Regions from separate parts of the Homo sapiens genome. Here region 1 is linked to region 2. The links come from fine-mapping of genetic effects on gene expression. Tissue or cell type: whole blood. Region 2 holds a variant in brackets; the other region holds the start of a gene. All regions are shown on one strand. Distances are between the middles of the regions.

Region 1 (8,332 bases), 12 kb before region 2:
TGACTAATAGTATATCCACTTCTGCCTGAGCCAAAAATGTTAAATTGGTTTAAAGATACGGTATAAAAAAGGCCAAGCTGTATCAGGCTTGGCTCAGCCTTGGAAGAGCCACAACACCAACATACTATTTTCACGGTGTGTGTGATTTCAGGCTCTGCTCCCAAGCTTCCACCACACAGGACCAGCTGAGTTAACATACTCAGTGGGTAGCCCTGGCCATCCTAGGCTGGCCTTTCCTGGGCTCCCACTGACCAGCAAGTCAAGCCCCATGCCCCCTGCCTGGCATTCAATGCCTGCAAAAAGAACTTTGCAAATGTTCCAGCCTACTTGGTCTCCTGGATTTCCTTGCACATGGCATGTTCATTTCCACCTCGGAGCCCACTTAGGTCAGTGCCTTCATCAGAAGAATTTGTTTTCCATCCATCCCTCCCAACTTCAACTATGTTGCTTTTTTAAAAAGCCATTCTTGGAGATTTTCATCTAACTGAGTTTTTCTCTCCCTGATCACTCACAGGTCCCACTGTTTGTCCCACAGATTTTTTTCCATGATGGTCTTTTTTAATTTTTAATTTTTATTATTTAGTTGTTAAATTTTACTTTAATTTCTGGGATACATGTGCAGAACGTGCAGGTTTTTTACATAGGTATACACGTACCATGGTGGTTTGCTGTACGTACCAACCTGTCATCTAGTTTTTAAGCCCCACATGCATTAGGTATTTGTCCTAATGCTCTCCCTCCCTTTGCCCCTGCCCCCTGCCCCCCTGTCTTTATGAATTAAGTGAAAAAGTGTGTATTAAGCACTTACATGTGCTCATTCCTCTGTCCGGTGCTTGAGGGGGCTCCAGAGGAACAGGAGCTGCCAGTGATTGATACACAAGGTGCTGGGTATGAGCCCTTTCCTTCCTGGCTTTATGTGATCAGCAAACATTCCTGTGACCATGAAATTCTACTAGGAAGAGCAATCCTACAGCAGCTTTTGTGCACATGCACAAGGAGACATGCAGAAGGTGCTTCTTGCAGCCTTATTTGTAAAACTGTAGAACAACTTGAATGCCCACTGAGAGGAGAAGGGATAAATAAGTTGCAGTGAATTCATATAGTAAAATCCTATAAATAGTCCTACATATAAGTTGTGGTAAAGTCATATAGTGAGTTCCTATACAGCAGTTAAGATGAATTAACTGAAGTTACATGTAATAACTCACCTAAATCTCAGCAAATTTGATGTTGAAAAAGAGTGATCAGCTGTAGAAGTGAAAGTACCATATAATACCATTTATATGAAATTTTAAGACCCACTAAACAATACTGTATATGGATATACACATATTATGTTTCAGTATTAAAATATGCATGGGAATGATATATACCAAGGTTGGCAAATTATGCCCATGGCCAAGTCCAGCCCACCACCTGCTTTTGCGTGGCTTGTGAGCTAAGAATGGGTTTTACAATTTTAAATAGTTGAAAAAAAATCAAAAGAAGGACACTCTTTGGTGACACCTGAAAATTATATGAAATTCAAATTCCAGTGTGCATAAATAAAATTTGCTGGAACACCACCACACTTGTTCTTTCACTTATCAACTATGGCTGCCTTTGTACTCCAAGGACAGGGTTGAATACTTGCCACAGACCGTGTGGCCTGCAAAGGTGCAACTACTTACCATCTGGCCCTTTTCAGAAAGTTTTCCAAGTCTTGATCTATATCAGACTTGGGGGAATGGTTGCCTCTGGTAAGGAAAGGAGAGGAATGGAACTGGGGCAGGAGTGCATCAGTTACAACATTTTATCTCTTAAGCTGCTGGTGGGTTATATATTAATACTTACATTTTGGATGTCTAAAGTATTTTGTAGTTTCAAAAAAAAGTAGAAGACAAACTTCTCACCTCCTAGAAAACCCATAGTAGGTATTATTATGGCTCCCAGTTCACAGTCAGGTATTATTATAACCTACAGTAGGTATTATTATAACCTAGCCCAACCCAGGTTGCCAAAGTTCTATCTCTCTCTCTCTCTCTCTCTCTCTCACTTTCCACGAGGCAGGCAGCCCCAGGCTCACAGGCCAGCAGCTGAGATGAGAAGACATGGGGTTTTTCAATGACTTCAGCAGACTGTACCGGGAGGATTTGGCTAACTGGGCTTGGATCACTGGCCCCTTCCTGCCGGCAGCCCTTCCTCAGATGAGAAAATTCACAGATGAGAAAGCGAAACTTAGAGGGTGCATGGATAGTGAATGCTGGAAGAGGATTAACCTCAGGACCTTCCATCCCAGCACCTCTGGAGCACTGGCCTGCGTTGCCAGTGCTCTTCAGGCCAGCTGGGGGGAAGGGACTGAATGCCAATCTGCTCTGGGATGAACATCTGCCTCCAGGAGACAGTTGTTTAATGAAATTTCCCACCCATGTGATTAGCATCCTCTGAGAGTGAGATGAGTAAAACAGGCTACCACCATCAACATCATCTCTGACTGCACTGCCTAGACAGTAATAACACCCAAGATTTTTAGAGCTTTCTGTTTCTCAAAGTCATGCCCACTGATTCACTCAGGAACCCGGCAGGAAGCAAGGCAGTCCTTGATTGCCCATGTCGTTGAGATGGTAAAAGGGGTATTCTGAGCAACTGTTGAGTTCTTTTACATCCCTGGGATGGCATGGTCACAAAGGCCAGACACCGGGCCTGACTTCAAGGTCACTGTGGCTGCACTACTGAGTGACTGTGGACAAGTCTCACATTCTCTTGAAGACTCAGGAGCCTCCTCTGTAAAGTGGAGATGATAATTATTTCCCACCGCATGGGTGTGTTGTGGGGATTAAATGAGATCATACAAGTGGAATGCTGAGCACCAGTCCAGGAAGGCGAGGGGCACGCCCTACATGTCACCTACTGGATCATTGCTGTTTTCAGGGTTCCTATTACCCAAAGATCCACCTAGAATTCTTCCCCTGAGTGCTGTTCATCTTCGTCAAGGCTCAGCAATGTTTTGGATGATTCTCCTTTGACATAGCTCTGGTGCTTGTTAATACTAAATGTTTTCCAGCTTACCTATAAGGAAACTGAGTCTTAGGAAGCAATTGCAGGGCCTCTACTTTGTGCATGAGAATGAGTGACGGCTGGGGAAACCTGGGATTTGGCCTGATGTTCAAGCACTGGCACCTGCCTGCCTTTTCTCTGTAAACATCTGACCCTAGAATGCTCCACCAGGGCGAGACCATCATCACCAAGCAGCAGCTGCATGGTATTTATCAAAGGAGGCGTGGTTTCCTTTGCTGTGGCTCTCCGCATTCGTGGCAGTTATTCATTTTTGAAGCAGAGGTCACTTTTCTTTCACTGGTGAGGTACTTTGACAAAGACGAAGAAGGGAGACAATGGTAATGATGGTGGAGTCAGGGGGAAGTGGGGATGGGATTGGCATTGGGTTTGAAGGCTGACAGTCAGAGGAAGGGGAGGGACTGAGGATAAAATACTTGCTGTGCTCATGTTGTCCAAGAGTTTGCATTCTCTGGTAGTCAGTGATCAAATGAAGCAGGGAGTTTCGTGTTCAAAAGCAGCACCTACAGGTTCTTTATAGAGGCTTGCCAGAAGATGAATGCCTTGGCTAGAATTTGTAGGCAGGCTTATTTAAGTTACAAGTGACAGACACTCAAACTAATAATAAACAAAAAGGGAATAATTGGCTCATGTAACTGGGAAGTGCAGAGGAATATGGGATACAGGAACAGCTGGATCCAGGGGTTGGCACCAGGTTGTCAGGGTTTTTTTTTTTTTTGAGACGGAGTCTCGCTCTGTTTCCCAGTTCAGTGGTGCAATCTTGGCTCACTGCAACCTCTGCCTCCTGGGTTCATGGGATTTTCCTGCCTCAGCCTCCCAAGTAGCTGGATTACAGGCGTGTGCCACTATGCCCGGCTAATTTTTGTATTTTTAGCAGAGACGGGGTTTCACCATGTTGGCCCGGCTGGTCTTGAACTCCTGACCTCAGGTGATCCACCCACCTTGGCTTCCCAAAGTGCTGGGATTACAGGTGTGAGCCACTGTGCCCGTCCCAGGTTGCCAGGGTTCTGTCTCCCTCTCCCTCTCTCACCTTCCGTGAGGCAGGAAGCCCCAGCTCACAGGCCAGCAGCTGAGATAAGAAGTCATGTCCTTTTTCAATGACATCAGCAGACTATACCAGGGAGGGTCTGGCTAACTGGGCCTGGGTCATTAGCAGCCCTGCCTCAGGAGAGGAGCTATCTACTATGCAACACAGGGCAGTACAAGCCTCGGTTCCTCCCTGTCCACCTAGTCATGAAAATGAGGATGGTTTTGGTGGTTAGCATGTTCCCTCTTAACTTGCCTCAGCATCATCTGCAAAAACTAGAAAATATAAGTGTGCATATTTTTAGCTGTTTTTAAATTTGTAAAACTGGAAACTGTTAAGATATTTACTTAGAACAAGAAAACCTACTGTGCCCTGAGTGAAGTTCACTTAAGCTGCCTCACAGTTACTCCTTGAGTCCTCACTGTCCCGCAGTCTCCTTTCCGCTGAGTTGGGGTGAGTTCTAACTTCAATTTTGCCTGTGAATGTAAATCAAATCTGACCTCCCGTCTCCAGTACATCAAGGGTGTACTCACAGGGACCTAGAAAATATTATATATGGTCCCCTAGAGCTCAAACCCAAGTTGTCTGGGGACAGAGAAGCAACTTTGGGCCATTCCAGGGAAAAGCTCTGGCCACCCTGTAGTAAATCTTCTCCCTTCCTTTCCTTTCAATGGAGGAGGAAGCTTGTCCTTTGCATGAGCATGAAAAATACTAAATTTGGACTTTTTGGAGGTTTTCATTTATGAAGTAGAGTCTATATATTTGGCTCAAGTCTTGCCGGCTGCCCTATTTTCATAGTCCCAGGATCAATATGAGGTTAGTCCATTTGTCTTCTGGAAAAATGTTGTGGCTGGGCTATGTGGCTCACACCTGTAATCCCAGCACTTTGGGAGGCCAAGGTGGGTGGATCACTTGAGATTAGGAGTTCCAGACTGGCCTGGGCAATGTGGGGACACTCTGACTCTAAAAGAAATAGAAAAATTAGGCATAATGGCACATACATTGTGGTCCTAGCTGCTTGGGAGGCTGAGCTGGCAGGATTGCTTGAGGCTGGGAGGTTGAGGCTGTAGGGAGCTGTGATTGTGCCACTGTACTCCAGTCTGTGTGACAGAGTGAGGCCCTGTCTCCAAAAAAAAAAAAAAAAGAAAAAAGAAAAAAGAAAAATGTCGTGCAGTCTTGCAGAATCTTCATGTGATCTTGCTTTGAGGCTATTAGAAAGTTCTTTCATACCCTTCCTCTGTGCTTGGCTGGAAGCCTTTTCCCCTAATTTTGGCACCTCCACCTTGAGTCACCTTGCAGTAGGTGGGAAGTGTTTTCCTTTTACAGGTTGGCCACACAACTGCCTCATCTCCTGTCCTGCACGAGGGCCACCACAGCTCTCCCCTTTCCTTTCCTTTCGTTTCGTTTCCTTTCCTTTCCTTTCCTTTCCTTTCCTTTCCTTTCCTTTCCTTTCCTTTCCTTTCCTTTCCTTTCCTTTCCTTTCCTTTCCTTTCCTTTCCTTTCCTTTCCTTTCCTTTCCTTTCCTTTCCTTTCCTTTCCTTTCCTTTCCTTTCCTTTCCTTTCCTCTCTTCTCTCTTCTCTCCTCTCCTCTCTTCTCCTTTCCTCTTCTTTTCTTTTCTTTTTGAGATGGAGTCTCATTCTGTGGCCCAGGCTGGAGTGTAGTGGCACGATCTCAGCTCATTGCAACTTCTGACTCCCAGGTTCAAGTGATTCTCCTGCCTCAGCCTCCCTAGTAGCTGGATTACAGGCATGCGCCACCATGCCCGGCAAATTTTGGTATTTGTAGTAGAGACGGGGTTTCACCATGTTGGTCAGGCTGGTCTCGAACTCATGACCTCAAGTGATCCATCTGCCTCAGCTTCTCAAAGTGCTGGGATTACAGGCGTGAGTCACCGCGCCTGGCCCAGATTGTTCTATCTCCCTCTCCCCTATCACTTTCCATGAGGCAGGCAGCCCCAGGCTCATAGGCCAGCAGCTGAGATGAGAGGACATGGCCTTCTTCAATGACATCAGCAGACTGTACTAGGGAGGGTCTGACTAACTGGGTCTGGGTCACTGGCCCCTCCTTGCCAGCAGCCCTTCCTCAGGAGAAGAGCTGTCTACTGTGCAGCACAGGGCAATACCAGCCTCAGGTCCTCTCTGTCCAAGGATTTAGTTGGCTTCAGGGAAGGCCCTTGTAATGACCTGAAGATGGAAATGAAGAGGTCAACTTCACCAGCACCAGCCACCTGTCCAGAATGTCTCAGCTTGTGTTTCTTCCTTTAAGATTCAGAAGGGTAAAAGGGAGCCACCAAACCTCATTTGGAGGGTCTGTCATTCTTTGCTGTTACTAGCCACTTCTCTGGAACACTTGTGTCCCTGTATTAGTTAGATGCTTGCAGTTTAAGGGGACTATGGCGTAATCCCATTGCTTTAGGTGATGGAGGATTATTGGAAGGACACCCTGGGAGGTGGGGAAGAACAGTAAATCTTCTCAGCAGTCACAGCTGGGCTTCACCGAGAACTGGAGTATCGTCCATGGCCATATAGGATTTGACAGGAGTTTGTGTAATCTAGTAAATAAAACCCCATGTTCCATAATCAAACTGCTGGGTTCACATTGCAACTCTGCCCTTTACCACTGTGTCACCTCTCTAGCCTCAGTTTCCTACCATCTATACAGTGGTGACAATAATAGCACTGACCATGTGGGGTTCCTTGTCAAGTTTCGGTGAGATCCTGTGCACAAGGACCTAACAGTGCCAGGCAAAAAGTTATGCTCAATGAGTATTGTTGTCAACTGTGGCTCCATGGACACTGTTATTATGAATACTTGTTATTAACAGGGGCTTTGCCCCACAAATGTAAGTCCATTTTTGTCCACTCTCGTGTTGGGGAGTTGGAGTGCTGGCTACTCTTTTCTGTTCTGTCACATGTACCATTACTCTTTGACGACAGCTCCCCATGTCTCAGTCAGATGTCCCAATAGAAGATCTGATTGGCTCTGCCAGGTGTTATCTAGTTTTGGGCAGCCCTACTGGGCATGTGGGGCCCTAATGTTCACACTGGGCCACCTTTTTGGCCTGTTTGCAGCCTATGAATTACCCCCTTGTTTGGTGGATTATGGCCAGAACAGTCTATAACTGAGAATCCCCTCAGACTCTGGGCAGAAAGGCATCTTGCAGAGCCGTTCCAATGCGACACCTCTAGAGTGTCATCCCCTAGAATGTCACCTTGGAAAGACTCTGCAAGATGCCTTGTTAACCATCATGGACCCTGTTAACCATTGTGGGCTAGCATGGTTCTACAAAGACACCTGTGCTCTGCTAGTGAGGGCCCTAACCCATCTCACCCCCTATGGATCCCTCCCTGATTCTGCTGGGATTCCTGCTCACTTTTCCTCTCACATGTTCCCAGCCTCGAGCAAAAATGAGGTATCTGTATTGGAAGCTAGAAATGCTGAGTTTTGAAGCAAATTCTTTGGGTAGGGGGTCCCCTCATAGCAATGCCTCTGGAGTAAGGGGATAAAGACAGAAGGATGACTGACAGGTTTCCTAGGGAGCCCCAGTTCTCTTAACTGAGTGTCTTTCCCCAAGATGGCCTCTCCCTCACGGGGGTAAACGGGGTGCCTGGCGTGGCTGGAGAAGTCTGCTGGTTCTCCCACTGACTAGTGAAGGAGCAGAGAGGGCAGCTCTGCACAGGTTTCTGGACTGGCCTCTTGGAGACCCTTTCGGGGGCTGCCTCTGGAAGATTCACTCCTAGGCTCTCAGAAGATCTGAGGTAGGCTGTTAGCTGAAGCTCCAGAATCCCCTTTCTTTTATTTCTTCAGCAAAGTCCCAGCCTGTTGACCTTTGGGTCCCAGTGCTGAGCCCAGCTCTAGATTTATCTACCCCTCTGGGGCCAAATGCCTGACTTGTTAGCCATGCCGAATGGTTTTATTTGTTTCTGTTGTGCATTTTTATCATTTTTGTTCATGTGCCTGGAGGCTTTCCTTAGAAAATGATGGATGCGTTTTCATAAATCAAAACATAAATGAGAAAGTATATAAAGGCAAAAAATAGACCCAAGTCTGGAATTTGCCACTAGGAGCTGCTAGCTATTTCCCAGGGAGAATGCCCTTTTTGATTTTACAATGTCAGATCCTGACTTATTTCACAGAGTACAATTTTCAGAGCACTTCCTAATACTACTGGCCACAGTAATAATGATGACAATCCCAACCGTGCCTGGTATGGTGCTGAATGCTTTTGATACATTATCACACTTAATTCT
Region 2 (8,332 bases):
CAAAATGCAGATCTAAATGTGGTAGTCTTGAGGTGGGGCTGGAAAGTCTGCATTTCCAGAAAGCACCCTGGTAATGCCCTGTGCTGGTCATTGGACCCCACTTGGAGCATCAAGATTCTAAGCTAAGCCTTTCATTTCACAAAGAATAAAAGGGAAACCCGGAGACCTGGAAGAGCTTGTTGGGGCAGAGTAAGGACTTGAGTCTTCCTCTTGTCATGGTGTTGTCCTGGCCCTGCACAGATGCTCCTGGCAGGGATGGTGTGTGTCTTAGCAGAGATGGTGGTCCCTTCTGGAACCACACCTAGAATCCAGGAGCAGGTGGCTTTTCCCCAGATGCTCTGGAGTGGATTGGATCCCCAGAGCTCTTGATGTGAGCCCGCAGGCTTCAGTAGTTGAGAAACTGGATGATAGTAGACCACTCACTATAAGATCCTGCCTGGAATCTTCAAAGGGGGCACAGGAAAGGAGGGCCTATTGAACATGCTGTGTATTGAGAGATGTGTGTGTCAGCAAACCCCAGGCTACTGATGCGACATTTTGGATAGGCAAGTGAGATTTGGAGGGGAGAATATGTGGCATCACGATAGAGGGGAATGGATTTTTTTAGTAGAAATCAAGGATCAGGTTGGGTGCGGTGGCTCAGGTCTGTAATCCTAGCACTTTGGGAGGCAAAGGCGGGTGGATCATCTGAGGTCAGGAGTTCGAGACCAGCTTGGCAAACATGGTGAAACCCCCTCTCTACTAAAAATACAAAAAATAGGCGTGGCGGCGTGCGCCTGTAATCCCAGCTACTAGGGGGTGCTGAGGCGGGAGAATTGCTTGAACCTGGGAGGCGGAGGTTGCAGTGAGCTGAGATTGCACCACTGCACTCCAGCCTGGGCGACAGAGACTCCATCTCAAAAAACAAAAACAAAAACAAAAACAAAAACAAAAACAAAACGAAAATCAGGATCACAGACTTTTTTCCAGTCTACCTCTATGGGATCTTGGACAACCTTTCTAGACCCTCTCAGTACAGTCTCATATGTTATGTGCTTGAACCCAGGTACTAGGGCACGTGCTCTTTTGAAGTTTATTTCCACTCTAAAATTCAAATTGTGGATATTATCTCTTTTTCTCTCTCTAATTCTCTTGCTCCTCTGTCTATCTTTTTCTATTTTTATCTGTGTCGTGGCACTTTGGTGTTATATATACAGTTGTGTACTGAAGAATTGACCAAAAGAGGGGTCTGGCCTTTGCCCTTGGCTCCTGGGAGGCAATCTCTAGGCCCCTGAAGTGTCCAGCCCGATGTCTTTGTTTGTCTGGGGGCTTTGGCAACTGGACAGTCCAATAGTGTGTTTCATAATGGGGGCTTTGGGACACACCATATCAGTTCTAACCTCCATGGGAACTAGAGGCATAAGGTATTGGCCTGAGCCTCCACTGAGGGCTGGAGACTGAAAGTCAACCATGTGGACATTATGTGACTAAGCCCCAAGGAAAACTCTGGACACTAAAGGCTTGGGTGAGCATCCTTTGTTCACAATACTCTGTGTGCATTGTCTCACACTGTGGCCAGGAGGAGGCAACACCATCCACGACTCTATGGGGAGAGGAAACTCAGAAGCTTTGCCTTTAGACCCCTCCTGGATTCCGCCCTACGTGTCTCTTCTCTTTGCAGATTTAAATGTGTATCCTTTTCCTATAATAAAATCACAAGCATAGCGCCTTCCAGAGTTCTCTGAATCATTCTAGTGAATTATCAAACCTGAGGGTATTTGTGTGAATCTCCCAAATTAGTAGCCAGCTGATGTGTCATGAGGATGGCATGGATACCCCCAAACTTGCAGCTAGTGTTTGAAATGAGGGAAGCCTTGTGAGGATTCTCCTTTCAATCTTTGTAGTTGACTGAACTCTTAACAATAGCAGTACATCAATTTAGCAAGTATTCTGGGGAAAACAAAGAAATACATCAATTCCTTTAACCAAAGCCTGCCTGGTTGTAGAGTGGATTAAAGAGTCTAGGCTAGAGTCTAGTGGATTAAAAGCCTGAACTTTGCAGAAAGACAGCCCCACAGATGGAGCTGGGCCTTAGTACTTTCTGGTTGAGGTGGGCATGTTACTTAAATTCCCGAGCCTCAGTTCCCCATCTGTAAAGCATACTTACCTCGAAGGTGTGTTGAGAGAGTGACATGAAATCAGCTATGTAAAGCACAGGGCATACAGGAGCATTCCACACATGGTCACTGTTGTGGTTACTGTTATCATTATTGCTTCTGGCTTTGTTGTTGGTGTGATTTCCATGTTTACCTACCTACTGATATATGAATTACTACTTTGCCTTCTTCAAAATAGTACTTGACTGACTCAGACAGATGGAAGTAAGATAGCCTGATACAATAAACTACCAAGAAGTAGGAAATAAGTATTGGGTAAATGGCAGTGGCTGCTGAGGGAGAAGTGGGGGTCCTCTCTCAGAGTCTCTGGGAGGCTGGGTCTGGCTAAGGGAAAGGTTGCAAGATTGAGCCTCGCTAAGATTGGGAGAGCTGCCGCTTGAGACACGATGACATGTCTTTATATCAGAAGTAGGGGTAATCTTGTAGGGGCCAAAATGTGAGGAGAACAGCAGCTGGCCTGGCCTGGAGGAGTTGAGAGCCAGGCTGTGCATCTCCGGACTAACCCATCCATCTTTATGTCTTCCATAGATTTCTGTTTGGTAAGCAGAGTGGTCATTAATACAGGTGTGCACTGTGCCATAAAGAGCTAGGGGAGAGAGGAAAGGTGGCATTTGGTTTTGGGAACCTTCCATCTCCCTATCCTTTCCCTTCATTTTGTCATTTTGGGTATTGCCAAGTCTCTACAGAGGCTCATTTCCATTTTCTGCTAATTCGTTACTTGAGAACTAAGATATTTACTGATAATGGTTCTAGACATTGCCCTTCCAAGATTTGTATTTTAATGAGAGGGAGGAGTCTCTTTATGAGCCAAAAGAATAAAACTGTAGTGATAAGATATGGTGATAAACTTCATTGATAAAAGGAAAGTGAAACTTAAAACATTAACCTCACAAGGCTGGGTGCAGTGGCTCATGCCTATAATCCCAGCACTTTGAGGGGCTGAGGCTGGAGGATCTCTTGAGGTCAGGAGTTTGAGACCAGCCTGGGCAACATGGTGAGACCCTGTTTCTACAAAAAATACACAAATTAGCCAGGTGTGGTGGTGCACGCCTGTGGTCCCCGCTGTCTTAGCTACTTGGGAAGCTGATGTGGGAGGATTGCTTGGGCCTGGGAGGCAGAAGTTGTAGTGAGCCGAGATTGAGCCACTGCACTCAAGCCTGGGCGACAGAGTGAGACCTTGTTAAAAAAAAAAAAAAAATTAACCCTACAAAACGACAAAACTCCTATCCTCAAACCCTCCAGTCAAATCCTAGAGAACTGCTGCTTGTGAAGTTCTTACTAAGCTCTCTGGAGTCCGCAGTTAGGAGCAGAGTCCTGAATCAGATGCCCGTACCTGAATCATGGCTCTGACACTGATAAGCAGGTCCCTGAGCCTTTCTGTGTCTTAATTTTTTTTATCTGTAAGATAAACAATAAAATAACAATAGTGACTATCTCATAGGGTTGTTGGGAGAAATAAATGACTTACTAACATAAAATATATTGGCACGGTGGCTCACGCCTGTAAAATCCTAGCACTTTGGGAGGCCGAGGCAGGCAGATCACTTGAGGTCAGGAGTTTGAGACCAGCCTGGCCAACATGATGAAACCCCATCTCTACTAAAAATACAAAAATTTGCCGGATGTGGTGGCAGGCGCCTGTAATCCCAGCTACTTAGGAGGCTGAGGCAGGAGAATTGCTTGAACCCAGGAGATGGAGGTTGCAGTGAGCCGAGATCGCGCCACTGCACTCCAGC[C/G]TGGGTGACATCTCGAAAAAAAAAAAAAGAAAAAGCCATTATCTTTTGGGGGTCAGTGGTGTTTTAGTAAAAAAATCAAACAAAAACACTGTATTAGGGCAGTTCAGTGTTTTGATCACATAATACTTGGATTGCACAAGTTGACCACTGGCATCTTAGGGTCTCTCAGAGTTTTAACCAGTGGGCCAGGAATCAGGCAAACAGATAAAAACGTGGAAAACAATGTCTTTTTGTGATTCACCATGTCTGATTAGCAGTGGGAATGTGCATGGAACAGATCCTGTTTGGTTAAATAATAAAAACCAACAGTCTCTTGCATTTGGTAATAATATATTTGAAGTACTGGGGATGAGCAGTTTCTGGTTTGATGGTCTAGGTCTAGATTTCCCCAGCCTTCTCTTTGAACTTGACCTTCAACCGCTGGATCTTGAACCAGAAAACAGTTGAAAGGACATAGTGGAGACAGCGTGGGATCAAGCATGAAGACTGAGCTATGTGAGTCTGGATCAATCAGAACTTTTGTGAGCCTCAGTTTCTATCTCTCTAAAATGAATACCATAAAACTTTCTTCACAGGGCTGTTAGAAGAACTAAATGAGATGATGCATTTGGAATGTTTTGGAAATGATTAAGGATAGTGCAAATGTCCATTATTGTTTTGTTTTTGAAATGTATTGACTCCTGTCATTGCTCCTAGAAGGAGGCCCAGACAGGTTCAAACCCTTGCCCAGGATGAAATAGAGGGAGGATGTGATATGCTTTAGGGCTACTGTTGGCTGAGCTTAGCAATCACCTCTCACCCTTGTCCAGCATGTGGGTCTGCTTGCCTTCTGATCAGGAGCAGACGTCTGTCTTCAGTCTGAGTTTTCTGTCTGCTTGGCTGAACTGTAAGGATCTGTGCTACGTGTTGGATTAGGTTCCATTCTGTGTTCCATCACTGATTAATTTTGTGACTCAGTTAAGTCATGGAGGTCCAGTGTTTTCATGGATTGGGCAGCTCTGGTTCTACCTGTCTCAAAGAGAATTTGGAAAATAAAGACAACTAAAGGATTCAAAGTAAAAGCACTCCTTGTCAGGTTTTTCCACTCTGGAAGCAGGATAGCATCATGATTAAGTACACAGACTCCTGGGTTGCTGATTGCAGGTCGCTTAGCACTCTGGGCCTCAGTTTTCTCATCTATAAATTGAGAATAACAATAGTAAACTGGGGTAATTGTAAGGATGAAGTGACTTAATCATGTGAAGGGCTTCATTATAGTTCCTGGTCCGGGTCAGTGCTCTGCAGGTGTTAGCTACTGTGATGTAGGACATATACTGTATCCCCACTTTGAATGCAAGATTTCTGCAGGAGAAATAGGTGCAGAGGTGTTTGGGACCCTTTGGTCCTTGTTTTTCTGTAGTATTTTCCTGTAAGTCACTGGCAAGTGGAAAATTGGCCAAGCATTACCAATCTTTGTTAAAAAGTGTGGAAAAAAGGTGTTTAAAGATAAATCCCCTAAATAACAACCCTTCCCTGACCATCTTTTCCTAGAGCCTCAAAAGCAGTTTTGTATTTATATGAAGCTACCGGGAAAAAGGCCCCTGTGTTTGAGTTAACACATACAATAATTTATTCTGTGCTAGTTGCACCATTACAATTGAAATCTCTCATATTCTAGAATGGATGGACAAGGTCATGCTGCTAGGTTGGTCAGTTAGTTCTACTTTTTGTTTACAAAGTTTGTGTTCCCAAGTGCTGCAGGAGGCACTGTCTATTCTCTGACCTGCTCTGCAAAGTTTAGTGCAGACAGGCAGCGTCCCATTTTGTAGAGCAGGAGCCCAAGACCCTGAGGTACGTTTATTGGCCATTTTCACCATGAGTACTGATAATGATGGTGTTATTTTGAGATTAGTAAGGACAATTTTGAACACTTCTTGCTGGATAGAAATCCTCCGTGAAGGAACTTGGGAAGGTTTCCTAGGAAAGCACACTGGCCTAGGCCTGGTTTAGGAAGGTTTCAGTGGATGTTCATTATGATTGTTTGCAGGAAAACAAAATCGATGTGATACTTTGAACATGTCACCCAAAGACTACCAATGTTGACCCCAGACACTTGGGATCTCAGCTCTTGGCTGGAGCTGGGCATTCTTGCTGAGTCCAGAAGGAAAGAAAACAGCCAGGTGAGCAGGGCACCAGGAGCTCCGGGTCTGTGTGGCTGCTGGCTGTGGCACAGGGCTGAGAGCATGCACCTTGGGAGGTTTGTGCCTGATGCAACAATGAGGTTTCCAAGAAAGCTTTCCATTGCTCTATTATTGTTTATAAAGAAAAGAAAGTTTTTGTTTTTTTCTTTCCAAACACACAGGTAGAATTTGTCCAGTAGAACTCAACAACCTGGGCCAAAGAGGAGGGAAAGGAAAGTCATTTCTTATTGTCTTATTGGCGATTGTAATTGTGGTTCTGAGGCTGGCGTTGCCCAGGATATGGCATAGTGCAACATTCTAGGAAGTTGTGGGGACATTTGGTATTAGCCTTGCCATTCAGATCCAGGAGCTGTGTCAACACTGGGGTGGTGACATCCTCTTATCTGTTCACTTAACAAGTTTCCTTCCTACCCCATTTACTCCTCATTCTTTCTGGAAGAGATGCTATTTTCTGAGAAAATGTTTTGAAACATCTGAGAATTCAGTGGTAGAGGCTGTGGTGGGCATCCCAGATCCCCGCTTCAAGACCAAGGCATCCATTGTGCTAGCTGCCCAGGGAGAATCAGCTGCTGATGGTCCACAGCTGGTCTTTCTCTAGAACCAGCCCTGGCAGAAGGCAGTGGCCTTACCCAATCTTACTCCCATTCTTCCGGGGGACCCTGCAGCCAATTAGTTGACTTAGGAATAGAAAAGCTGGGCTCCCTTGCTGTAACTTGGAACAGCTCAGAAGGGCAACCCACCTCCAGAGCTCCCCAAGGGAAGAAGGAAGCTTCTGTTACAACCGCACCACACTTCAACTTCCTCACCTGCCTCCTCCTGCTTTCCCTTTTCCCTGACAGGGGTTGTTCCTGAGTGTTTCCCAAATTGCTCTGTACCACAATCTCTGACACAGAGTCTGGTTCCAGGGAATTTGATGTAAAGTAAGTCCCTTGGCACCATGACTAGGGATGAAGCAGTGTCTCTGGTCTCTGACATTTTCTATCTTTTCTAGAAATGTTCCCTTGTCATTTTTTTCCAGCCATGATCTTGGGGGCAGGGACTTTCAAACCCATCTAGGTCGAAATTGTTTACATGCATATATCTGCATGTCATGCAGATGTAAAATCTGAAAGGACACCCTCTGAGGTATTCACAGTTATGGTAGGAAAGGAAGTGAAGAGCGAACTCCGATTTTAACTAAATAAACTTCCATATTGTTTAAATAGTGTAATGAAAATAAATTAATGTATCGCCTGTATAATTACTATTGTTTCTTACATTTTGGCCTATTTTAGAATCTGAGGGTGATCATCTCACCAACCCATGTATTCGCTATCCCCAACCTTGTCGTTTCTTCCTCCCCACCTCCCTCTCATTCTGTGGGGGCTCTGTGCAGCTGGTCCTGAGTGTTGGGGTAATGGTGGGATGAGAGGTGGGGAAGTGAGGATGACCCCCAACCACAGGGGTCAGGGGTCAGCTTCGGCTACTCGCTTATTGGAATGAGTCAAAGTACAACAATAATCTGTACCCCTTGCCACGGTGAATTGATGAAACCTTCCTATCCCAGTGTTAGAGGAAGTGTTTACTATTTTGTTATAGTAAATAAGAAGGGCTTCCCTTCTTCCTGCTGAATTCCACATAGAAGCATGAGGATTTAGTGCAAAGCCAGCACTCTGATGTGGCTCTGTCTTTCCAGATCTTTCATGGTCCGGAAGACCATGTCTGGTCCCTGATCTACTGATAAGGGATGGTTAGTTAGGAGGAGGGACCCGGGGGTGGCTGCCTTTCTCCCTGAAAATTGGTGTCAGTGTTTAGAGCTACCTCTTTGGTTTTGGAACTTATCTGTAATTTAAGGTGTCAAGGTCTGACTCTTTTCATTTGGGGCAAAGACAAGCTGTTTTCACTTTGGGGAGAAGAAGAGGGGTGAACTTTCATACTCATTCTCTCTCCTGCCCCTCTGTGAGTGCCAGGCTTCTGTTTCTCTCTTCCAGGTAGAGCTGATTACTCAGAGCACAAGATATGAAAGGACAGGCAGTCCACAGACATCGAATCTTTTAAAATCACTTAACAATTGAACAGTAACTCCTGAAATGGAAGCCCAGATCCTATACCTCATTCTGAGAAAAGTTACTCTCCACCACCGTGCCTCAGTTTACTCACGTGGAACACTGAAGTTACAGCACCGAACAGAGGCTAGAGGGGGTGGGTGTTTGCTAAGTGGGACCTGGGGCTAACCTTTCTGATCTGGCCTGTCTCCCTAACGGGGCTGTTCAAGACTCAA

The links. PIP is the estimated chance that this variant, and not a neighbour inherited with it, causes the effect.
Region 1: it holds the start of MIR4432HG, and the variant in region 2 is the best candidate, but not a certain one, in a credible set for the expression of MIR4432HG in whole blood (INTERVAL, PIP 0.53).

The regions. Positions count from the first base shown.
Region 1 is chr2:60,386,348-60,394,679 of GRCh38, reverse strand. It overlaps MIR4432HG (MIR4432 host gene), which reads left to right and starts at 3,305. Exons shown (of 2, transcript NR_132992.1): 1 at 3,305-3,374. It overlaps MIR4432 (microRNA 4432), which reads left to right and starts at 7,235; the gene lies at 7,235-7,318.
Region 2 is chr2:60,374,557-60,382,888 of GRCh38, reverse strand. The region is part of intron 1 of MIR4432HG (MIR4432 host gene); the gene reads left to right. Among named protein-coding and RNA genes, the nearest start is that of MIR4432, 8.7 kb to the left of the region's middle. The variant C/G (reference allele first, on the strand shown) is at 3,893.